Homo sapiens: one gene and its partners. The protein of the gene in region 3 purifies or fractionates together with the protein of the main gene of each other region. This does not show direct contact. Each region holds a gene or a part of one and is shown on either strand. Other genes may lie near its edges.

Evidence for each region.
Region 1: the proteins of GJA1 (region 3) and DEFB125 purify together in Homo sapiens (affinity purification with mass spectrometry, with the first as the bait; one study listed by BioGRID). This does not show direct contact.
Region 2: the proteins of GJA1 (region 3) and DEFB124 purify together in Homo sapiens (affinity purification with mass spectrometry, with the first as the bait; one study listed by BioGRID). This does not show direct contact.

Annotation. Positions count from the first base shown.
Region 1 is NC_000020.11:85,959-89,785, reverse strand, and holds the start of DEFB125 (beta-defensin 125 preproprotein), read right to left. Parts: upstream 2,115-3,827; 5' UTR 2,077-2,114; coding exon 2,019-2,076; intron 1-2,018. UniProt on the Homo sapiens protein: Has antibacterial activity.
Region 2 is NC_000020.11:31,468,574-31,472,300, reverse strand, and holds part of DEFB124 (beta-defensin 124 precursor), read left to right. Parts: intron 1-3,727. UniProt on the Homo sapiens protein: Has antibacterial activity.
Region 3 is NC_000006.12:121,438,646-121,442,145, reverse strand, and holds part of GJA1 (gap junction alpha-1 protein), read right to left. Parts: intron 1-3,500. UniProt on the Homo sapiens protein: Gap junction protein that acts as a regulator of bladder capacity. A gap junction consists of a cluster of closely packed pairs of transmembrane channels, the connexons, through which materials of low MW diffuse from one cell to a neighboring cell.

The DNA of each region.
Region 1 (3,827 bases), on a different chromosome or scaffold from region 3:
ACTTCCCCATTACTCACAGACATAAATAAAAATTAAATATTTATATATAATATTTCATTTTTAGGACTTGGCAAGTATTCAAAAATTGATAACACATGAAGCAGACAGAAAAAAGTACATCTCCAGGAATTTTATGCTGAATGATTTATGTATAAGAAAGGTTATACTAGCCATCCTTGTCTATAAAATGTAAATGCACTTATTTATGCAAAAACAATTTGGCTAAGTAATTTAAACAGTATCCATTCTATAAAATTTATACAGTCATTGGAAATACAGTTTTTGAAAATAGTAAATGGGAAAATACTAATAGTATAATAGAAAATTTATAAGTATGCTATACATTTTTATTCAAATAAGAAAACTGAGGAAGAACAATAGATCAAAAATATTTTGTCTCTTTTAACTTCTTTACAATTTTTTTACTTCTTTACAATTTCAAAATTTCCAAATTTTCAACAAATACAGCAGTTTATAATCAGAAATGAATGTAGATATTAATTCTGTAACTCACATTACATCAACATGTGAATCAAGACATAACAGATCATAGGCACAGTTATAACCATTTAATAGACATGAATAGCATCTTTCTAGGCAACATATAACACCTCCAAATTTAACAAAAGCCAAATTTCTTAGTATATAAAGATAATTAAGAAAGTTTAGAAATCTAATGGACTGGATGTTCAAACTCATTTATAACTAAAGTGTCATGAATTCAAACATCAGGACATCATTTTCACATATTAGACTGTAAAACTGAATGTAGTAGAAAACTGAATGTAGTAGAAAAAACAAAAAGGACTGATGAGGGTGTGGGAAGCTGACACTCTTGCAACTGGTGATAGGAGAGAAGAATAGTTCAGCTTTTCTGGTAGGTGGTTTGACTGTGTGTGTGTGTGTGTGTGTGTGTGTGTCCACGTGTCCAGTCATAAATGAAAAGACATACATTTGTTTACAAATTTTTCTTGCTGAATTGTTTTTGATAATTAAAGACCTATTTTTCATCAGTAGCGGAGTAATTAATGTGAGGCAATTCATCTGCTCCTCCTCAAAGTTTTACTTATCGATTAAAAATAATGAACTAGGTTTATGTATGGATAAGATGTCTCTAATATATTGCTAGTACATTGCAGAACAATTCACATGGTGCATTTGCAATTGCATTTTTTAAAAATCTAAAAGGTATACACATGCAAATATAAATATATTTGTATTTGCTAGGATATATAAGAAATTGGTAACATTGATTGATTCTGAAGGGGAAGACTGAAGAACTGGTATTCTTGGACAGACAAACATTTTTCTTTTCCTTAAACCCTATAAATCCATCGATTGCTTGATACATAAGTCAATTGCAAGTATTATTTTTTAATAAAAAGTTAACAATTTTCAAAAGTAGCATTATTAAATAGTGGAAACAGACTGTTCCTATTCATCTAAAATTAGAAGCTCCCCATTGGTCACTAGTCTGTCTATCCTGTCTTCACTCCACTTATTTCCACTTCTACCCCAAACATATATATTGTCTCTTCCATATGATAGTGCTACAGAATCTACAAACTGTCAATGGACTTGTTCACCATATCTAAGAACATGAAAGTGAGGGCCTCCCTCTGAAGGTACCCTCCGGGCAAAGAAGAATTCAAGATGGTAGGAGAACTAATAGGACACAACAATGAAATAGATACAACAGAATAATCGAAATGGAAGTGAAGTGAGGCTGAACTAACATTGGATAGTTATGTAGAGAGACAGATAGGGTGGCTCAGAGCATTAAGGAAATTCTTGTCTTTGGAGAAATGCCTCAGAGGACATCCCAGCTTGCTAGATGCCCCTAACAGAAAGATTCTCAGAGACTAGGGGCATGGAGCTGCCAAAATAAGAGCATTCTGCTGCTCTTTGTTGGCCCAGATTTTTCCTGCAGATTCCCTCTCTTCCCATCATGATACCAGGGGAGCCCAAGGGCAACAACTCATCCTAGTCATCATCTCTGCTTTATAGGGTTCCATTACCTTTGGTCACCCGAGTTAGCAACCCACAGATAATGAAGGTCAGCATCAGGATATTCATGGCTCCTGGGAGAGAGGAAGCTCTGTGTCCTGAGGAATACAGAACACTGCACAGCAAGGAATTTAAGTGGTCACCTTTACTGGTCTATCATGGGTGATGAACCAGAGAAGGGGAAAATGCCATGCCACCCAGATCACCAGACCATTAATTTGCAACACTGAGTGTGCATGACACAATAACGTCTGCTTCTAGAAATTATTAAAGAAAGCTGAGGCCTTATGAGATAAGCTATTATCCCGTAGAACTGTAAGGTCTGATGGAAAGAAACAGCCCCAAGAGGAAGTTTTTGTTAACTTTAGATGGGCTCAATTGTCCTTCTCCTCTGTCTGTATGCAGCACTTTGTACATACCCAATGACAGCAGAATGGTGTGTAAAGATATCACTTGTGGCAGTTCAATAGCTTACAACATCCGGTATTCACCTTTTCTTCTGAGTGATCACCCCGATATGAATTCCTGTGAAACAAGAAAGACACTTTTTAACTAATAAGTTCATAAGATTCCATCAATTATGAGACAGAAGGAATTTGGAATGAAAATAGTGAAAACAGGAAAACAGGTTTTATTGGTGCTCTTCTTTTTCCCGTTCCGCTGTCCCATCAACTCTTTTCCCTCATTCAGAAATACAAATAAGAAATGAAATATTGAGAGAGAGGAAACATTTTAAAAGGAGAGGGAGAGAGAAAGAGAGAGAGGAGAGAGGCCCAATGTAACATTATGCCCCCCATCCCCACTACCAAAGGAGAAAAATATAGGAGACATTTGTGAAATTGCCCAGTAGGAGTGATCAGCATTTTATCTCCTGGAAGAGTTTGCTGAGCTGTATTTCTCCCACATATGTTTAATACCAAGGAAATCAGGAAAATTTTAAAAAAATTTTCTAAACAGCTGCACTGTTTAGAAAAAAAACTGCAGCTCACTGCCCATGTTCATTTAATTTTACATTAACATGCTCTGGAGGCTGACTGATGTTCAGTGTGAAAATAAAATATACAAACTGTTCTTGGAATTATTTTTAAACAGAACTAACATCAGAATCATCTGAATAATCAGAATCATCTATTTTGGAAAAAACCGGATTCATTAAATGACTCTTTGGCCCAAAACTGTTTGAGAACAATGTTAACATGGGAATGCTATGCTTTCTAGAATTTGACATTTTCAGCGATCAAGAATTTCTATATTTTGTAAATGGAAATACCACTGCTAACAACAAGATGCTATAAATAGAATGATGATTTGTGTTTTCAAAGTCGATATATTAGAACGATGTGAAAATAATAATAAAGGCGAGATATTTTGTGGCAAAGTTATCTCAGGGTAAACCCTGCAGCTGCAAGTGCCACCAGCGAGTATTCTGGGTGAAAATGGGAAAAGGGTTAAAAATGCAGGATGGCCAAAGCCATCCTAAGCAAAAAGAACAAAACTAGAGGAATCACATTACCTCACTTCAAATTATACTACAAAGCTATAGTAACCAAAACAGCATGGTACTAGTATAAAAACAGACACATAGAGCAATGGAAAAGAATAGAGAACACAGAAACAAGTCCACACATCTACAGTAAACTCATTTTTGACAAAGTTGCCAAGAACATACTTTGGGGGAAAAACAGTCTCTTTAAAAAATGGTGCTGGGAAAACTGGATATCCATATGCAGAATAATGAAACTAGACCCCTGTCTTTCACCATATACAAAACATTAAGTCAAATGGATTAAAGACTTAAAGCTAAGATCTCAAACTATGAA
Region 2 (3,727 bases), on a different chromosome or scaffold from region 3:
CTGCCCAGTGCCTGCGATTGCAGGCGCGCGCCACCACGCCTGACTGGTTTTCGTACTTTTTTGGTGGAGATGGGGTTTCGCTGTGTTGGCCGGGCTGGTCTCCAGCTCCTAACCGCGAGTGATCCGCCAGCCTCGGCCTCCCGAGGTGCCGGGATTGCAGACGGAGTCTGGTTCACTCAGTGCTCAATGGTGCCCAGGCTGGAGTGCAGTGGCGTGATCTCAGCTCGCTACAACCTCCATCTCCCAGCCGCCTGCCTTGGCCTCCCAAAGTGCCGAGATTGCAGCCTCTGCCCGGCCGCCACCCCGTCTGGGAAGTGAGGAGCGTCTCTGCCTGGCCGCCCATCGTCTGGGACGTGAGGAGCCCCTCTGCCTGGCTGCCCAGTCTGGAAAGTGAGGAGCGTCTCTGCCCCGCCGCCATCCCGTCTAGGAAGTGAGGAGCGCCTCTTCCCGGCAGCCATCCCATCTGGGAAGTGAGGAGCGTCTCTGCCCGGCCGCCCATCGTCTGAGATGTGGGGAGCGCCTCTGCCCCGCCGCCCCGTCTGGGATGTGAGGAGCGCCTCTGCCAGGCTGCGACCCCGTCTGGGAGGTGAGGAGCGTCTCTGCCCAGCCGCCCCGTCTGAGAAGTGAGGAGCCCCTCCGCCCGGCAGCTGCCCCGTCTGAGAAGTGAGGAGCCCCTCTGCCCGGCAGCCACCCCGTCTGGGAAGTGAGGAGCGTCTCCGCCCGGCAGCCGCCCCGTCCGGGAGGGAGGTGGGGGGATCAGCCTCCTGCCCGGCCAGCCGCCCCGTCCGGGAGGGAGGTGGGGGGGTCAGCCCCCCGTCCGGGAGGGAGGTGGGGGGGGTCAGTCCCCCGCCCGGCCAGCCGCCCCGTCCGGGAGGGAGGTGGGGGGGTCAGCCCCCCGCCCGGCCAGCCGCCCCGTCCGGGAGGGAGGTGGGGGGGTCAGCCCCCGCCCGGCCAGCCGCCCCGTCCGGGAGGGAGGTGGGGGGGGTCAGCCCCCCGCCCGGCCAGCCGCCCCGTCCGGGAGGTGAGGGGCGCCTCTGCCCAGCCGCCCCTACTGGGAAGCGAGGAGCCCCTCTGCCTGGCTAGCCACCCCGTCCGGGAGGGAGGTGGGGGAGTCAGCCCCCCGCCCAGCCAGCCGCCTCGTCCGGGAGGGAGGTGGGGGGGTCAACCCCCCGCCCGGCCAGCCGCCCTGTCCAGGAGGGAGGTGGGGGGGTCAGCCCCACGTCCGGGAGGGAGGTGGGGGGGGTCAGCCCCCCGCCCGGCCAGCCGCCCCGTCCGGGAGGGAGGTGAGGTCAGCCCCCTGCCCGGCCAGCCGCCCCGTCCGGGAAGTGAGGGGCGCTTCTGCCCAGCCGCCCCTACTGGGAAGTGAGGAGCCCCTCTGCCGGGCCAGCCACCCCGTCCGGGAGGGAGGTGGGGGGCTCAGCCCCCCGCCCGGCCAGCCGCCCCGTCCGGGAGGGAGGTGGGGGGATCAGCACCCCGCCCGGCCAGCCGCCCCGTCCGGGAGGTGAGGGGCGCCTCTGCCCAGCCGCCCCTACTGGGAAGTGAGGAGCCCCTCTGCCTGGCCAGCCACCCCGTCCGGGAGGGAGGTGGGGGAGTCAGCCCCCCGCCCAGCCAGCCGCCCTGTCCGGGAGGGAGGTGGGGGGTTCAGCCCCCCGCCCGGCCAGCCGCCCTGTCCGGGAGGGAGGTGGGGGGGGGGGTCAGCCCCCCGCCCGGCCAGCCGCCCCGTCCGGGATGGAGGTGGGGTCAGCCCCCCGCCCGGCCAGCCGCCCCGTCCGGGAAGTGAGGGGCGCCTCTGCCCAGCCGCCCCTACTGGGAAGTGAGGAGCCCCTCTGCCAGGCCAGCCACCCCGTCCGGGAGGGAGGTGGGGGGCTCAGCCCCCCGCCCGGCCAGCCGCCCCGTCCGGGAGGGAGGTGGGGGGGTCAGCCCCCCGCCCGGCCAGCCACCCCGTCCGGGGGGTGAGGGGCGCCTCTGCCCGGCCGCCCCTACTGGGAAGTGAGGAACCCCTCTGCCCGGCCAGCCGCCCCGTCCGGGAGGGAGGTGGGGGGGTCAGCCCCCCGCCCGGCCAGCCGCCTTGTCCAGGAGGGAGGTGGGGGGGTCAGCCCCCCGCCCGGCCAGCCGCCCCGTCCGGGAGGTGAGGGGCACCTCTGCCCGGCCGCCCCTACTAGGAAGTGAGGCGCCCCGCTGCCCGGCCAGCCGCTCCGTCCGGGAGGGAGGTGGGGGGGTCAGCCCCCTGCCCGTCCAGCCGCCCCGTCCGGGAGGTGAGGGGCGCCTCTGCCCGGCCGCCCCTACTGGGAAGTGAGGAGCCCCTCTGCCCGGCCACCACCCCGTCTGGGAGGTGTACCCAACAGCTCATTGAGAACGGGCCGGGATGACAATGGCGGTTTTGTGGAATAGAAAGGGAGGAAAGGTGGGGAAAAGATTGAGAAATCGGATGGTTGCCGTGTCTGTGTAGAAAGAAATAGACATGGGAGACTTTTCATTTTGTTCTGTACTAAGATAAATTCTTCTGCCTTGGGATCCTGTCGATCGGTGACCTTACCCCCAACCCTGTGCTCTCTGAAACATGTGCTGTGTCCACTCAGGGTTAAATGGATTAAGGGCGGTGCAAGATGTGCTTTGTTAAACAGATGCTTGAAGGCAGCATGCTCGTTAAGAATCATCACCACTCCCTAATCTCAAGTACCCAGGGACACAAACACTGCTGAAGGCCGCAGGGTCCTCTGCCTAGGAAAACCAGAGACCTTTGTTCACTTGTTTATCTGCCGACCTTCCCTCCACTATTGTCCTATGACCCTGCCAAATCCCCCTCTGCGAGAAACACCCAAGAATGATCAATAAAAAAAATAAAAATTAAAAAAAAAAAAGATTTGTTTCTTTTTCTACTTTTTGAGATGGAGTTTCATTCTTGTTGCTCGTGCAATGGCATGATCTCAGCTCACTGCAACCTCTGCCTCCCGGGTTCAAGCGATTCTCCTGCCTCAGCCTCCCGAGTAGCTGGGATTACAGGCATGTGCCACCATGCCTGGCTAATTTTTGTATTTTTAGTGGAGACGGGGTTTCACCATGTTGGTCAGGCTGGTCTAGATCTCCTGACCTCAGGTGATTGACCCACCCCGGCCTCCCAAATTGCTAGGATTACAGACATGAGCCACCATGCCCGGCCCAGAGTTTTTTCTTTTTAAAAACTTTTTATTTTGGAAAATTTCACATATACATGAAAGTAGAGAGAATAACATAAATAAATAAGGTGAGTTTTAAACATTTTTATTATGGGAAAATTTAAACTTATGCAGAAATACAGAATACTGTAACAGCATGAGTTTTTAAAGGATACTTCTTTGATTTTTAAATTTTTGTAGAGATGGGGCCTCCCTATGTTGCTCAGGCTAGTCTCAAACTCTTGGCCTCAAGCAATCCTCCAGCTTTGGCCTCCCAAAATGCTGGGATTACAGGCATGAGCCCAGCCAGAAACTTTGGTATTTAGGAAAATTTCAACCAGAAATAAGAAATAAATAGTATAAAGAACCCTGGCCGGGCGCGGTGGCTCACGCCTGTAATCCCAGCACTTTGGGAGGCCGAGGCGGGTGGATCATGAGGTCAAGAGATGGAGACCATCCTGGCCAACATGGTGAAACCCCATCTCTACTAAAAATACAAAAAATTAGTTGGGCGTGGTGGTGGGCGCCTGTAATCCCAGCTACTCGGGAGGCTGAGGCAGGAGAATCAGTTG
Region 3 (3,500 bases):
TCCAGCATCTTTTTATGATTGAAAGAAAAGAGAAGGTGAAGGACTTTAATATCTGAAAGAATAAAATCAGAGTCTAAACCTACATAAGGAAATGTCTATGGAAGTTCCCGATAAAATCATTTAATGGATTTTTTGGGAGGAAAGGGAAATCATGTGTGTGTCTAATGTACTAACACCCAAAAATATTCATGCCCAAAAACTCAAATGCAAACCCTTGTAATGTTTTCTTTCACTTTTATAATAACCTCTGCCCCTCCAGTAAATGTCATTGAGTGAACTCAGTTGTCTATTCCTCCGCACTTAAAACAGCCACCCTTAGCTTGATCTCAGCCATCATCAGTTTGCTAGGTTTCATGTCATTAGCCTGGTCACCCTACTTGCCAACCTATACTCCGAGTAATCAGTCAATCTTGAGAAAACAAACCAACAATCAGCTTGGTTTGATGAGCTCTGCTCCATCCACGCAGCTCACGTCCTCACTTGTTGCAGGTCTCACCTCATCAGCCAACTTTCCTGACCACCAAATATGAAATAGCAACATCCTTTCCCCAGTCCTGTCATTTCCTATTCCCTTTGCCCTGGTTTTTAAAAAATTATTATTTTAATAGACTTTCTCTCTACTTGATATAGTAAATATTTGCCTGATTACTATGTACCTCCTTCCATGAGAAGGATTTATTATTTGTCTTCCTTAACTGGAATGTGAACAATACGAGGGAGTTTGCTTTGTTCACTGCTGTATCCCCAGTGCTTGAAAGAGTAAGAGATGTGGCTCACACCTGTAATTCCAGCACTTTGGGAGGCCGAGGTGGGAGGATCATCTGAGGTCAAGAGTTTGAGATCAGCCTGGCCAACATAGTGAAATCCCATCTCTACTAAAAACACAAAAAAGTAGACCGGGTGCGGTGGCTTAAGCCTGTAGTCCCAGCACTTTGGGAGGCCGAGGCGGGCGGATCACGAGGTTAGGAGATAGAGACCATCCTGGCTAACACAGTGAAACCCCGTCTCTACTAAAAATAAAAAAAATACAAAAAAATTAGCCGGGCGTGGTGGCGGGCACCTGTAGTCCCAGCTACTCGGGAGGCTGAGGCAGGAGAATGGCGTGAACCCGGGAGGCGGAGCTTGCAGTGAGCCGGGATCGCGCCACTGCACTCCAGCCTGGGCGACAGAGCGAGACTCCGTCTCAAAGAAAAAAACGACAAACAACAACAACAACAACAACAACAACAACAAAAAAGTAGCCAGGCGTGGTGGCGGGTGCCTGTAATCCCAGCTACTCTGGAGGCTGAGGCAGGAGAATTGCTTGAACCCGGGAGGCGGAGGCTGCAGTGAGCAGAGATCACACCACTGCACTCCAACCCGGGTGATAGAGTGAAACTCCGTCTCAAAAAAAGAAAAGAAAAGAAAAGAATTAATTAATTGGGGTATAGCTACATGTTAAATGAATTAAATGGGGCTTCCACAAAAAATAGAAAGATACTGTGCAAAAAAAAAAAAAAAGTTTGTTTTTTTCTGTCTCTTTGGGATTCTCTTAATTGTAGTTATATCTCAAATTTCTAAAGTTTCAAATTAATTAAAAAGGAAACTTCACAGTAAAAAACTATTGTCATCATCTCATTCTCATACTGTTAAATTTTCAAGTGACAATTGCTGAAACAGAGAACTGTTTGTTGAAACAACATGCTTCAAATGATTCCTGAGCAGGCAAAAGAGCTAAATTAAGAAAAAAGGCTCTTTGCAACCCCCACTGCTAAATTTGACAGGCTTAAAAGAAAAAAGAAAAAAGGCTTTTTAACAAAGAGCTTCCTGAATTTGTTAAATGAGATCCTAATGAGGGTTAGGATTCTTGTAGAACTGCATCAGGTATCATGCTTGTACATTCAGTTCACTGTTAGGTTGTTGCAGGTTAAGATTTAAAACACAAAACAAAAAAAAAAAGGAAAAAACACAACTGTGTGGTTGTCCCCTAGTTCTACGATGTTCTAACTCCGATTGCACCACACAATTTTATTGTAGACAAGGACACTATTACAAGAAGAAATAGCCTGTTTAAAATCGTGTTTATTTCAAGAATGATAAATATCGGGGAAGGCTAGGGCTCTGAAGGGGAAGAGCAGCAGTTGATATTAACCCTGGTTAATGTAACATCTTTACAGTCTGAGTCTATGCAGGCACTAAAGTGATTAGATTCAAGTACCATGGAAAAGATTCCCAGTTCATCAGATAATACCCAACCTTTACTTCCTTATTTATACCTAGATGGCCTAACTATAGTGTATCAAACTTACTGTATGTAAAAATATATTTATAAATAATTGCACATTTGTGTAGGTATTTGATGTTGTGAACTGCTTATTTTGGGGGCAGAGGGGAGGACAACATAAAAACACCAACAAGCCTTCCTTCCCCAGCTCTTACCCCTCCTCATCACTGAACTTACATTAGCATCCACTTAATGAGATGAGATGGGAATTGAGGTGTGAGGAACTCCATCCAAAGAGAGGATGGTGCATCCCATAAAAGACAATCCTCTCCCTAGTTCAACAGCTACTACTCAATTCTCCCCCAAAACAAGTTTCTCAAGATCAATTTAGGGCTACCAGAGAGAAAATCCCAAGTCAGAAGCTGAGGCTAAAAGCCATGTTCTTCAATTGTGATGTAACTTAATATATTTCTATCAGTCCTTGGCGTTTCCTCTGCCCCTACTCTTACTTCCACCTCCAAATTGACTATTTTTAGTGAATAGCCTTGTTATTTTATAATCATATAAAGACACCCTTAGGGCCCTCACAAGTGTATTGATTAAGATAGTCTATTTTTTTCAATGAGAATTTAATAAATAACTCATGCATGTGATGCTCTTAGTAACAGCTCAGTAAAGTTTGGTTCTTACTCTTTAGACGACCTTTAGATATAGCTCATTTGGTTTTAAATTTTTCATCTTTTCTTTAGCAAAACAGCAACTAAGAAATGATTGACAAACATACATTTTCTTTTTAAAATTTTTTTTTATAGAGGTGGGGTCTTGCTATGTTGCTCAGGCTGGTTTTAAACTCCTGGCCCCAAGCGATCCTCCCACCTCAGCCTCTCAAAGGGCTAGGATTACAGGCATGAGCCATCATGCCCAGCTGACGATAAACATATATTTTTCTTAAAATATTATTTTAAAAGCATAGGGAAATTGGAATGTGAAATTTATGAAATTGTATAAGCCACTGATGTATTAAAAAAAAAGAGCTAACCACAGTTTGAAAATAGGTAAAAGACAATCTGTACATACATAGTTAAAAGGTGACTTTAGATGGAGGTTTAGACAATTATGCTAAGAATTTAAAAAATATATACATTAATCTCCCATGGAAGAGATGCTCTGGAGATTTTTTAAAACTTGAATTATCCATACAGAATATTACATTAATAATAAACACTAGATAATTACTTTTTCTCTCCAGAGTTGAACTGGTGTGTGCGGATAAGCTCCCACACATCTCTTCAAATAA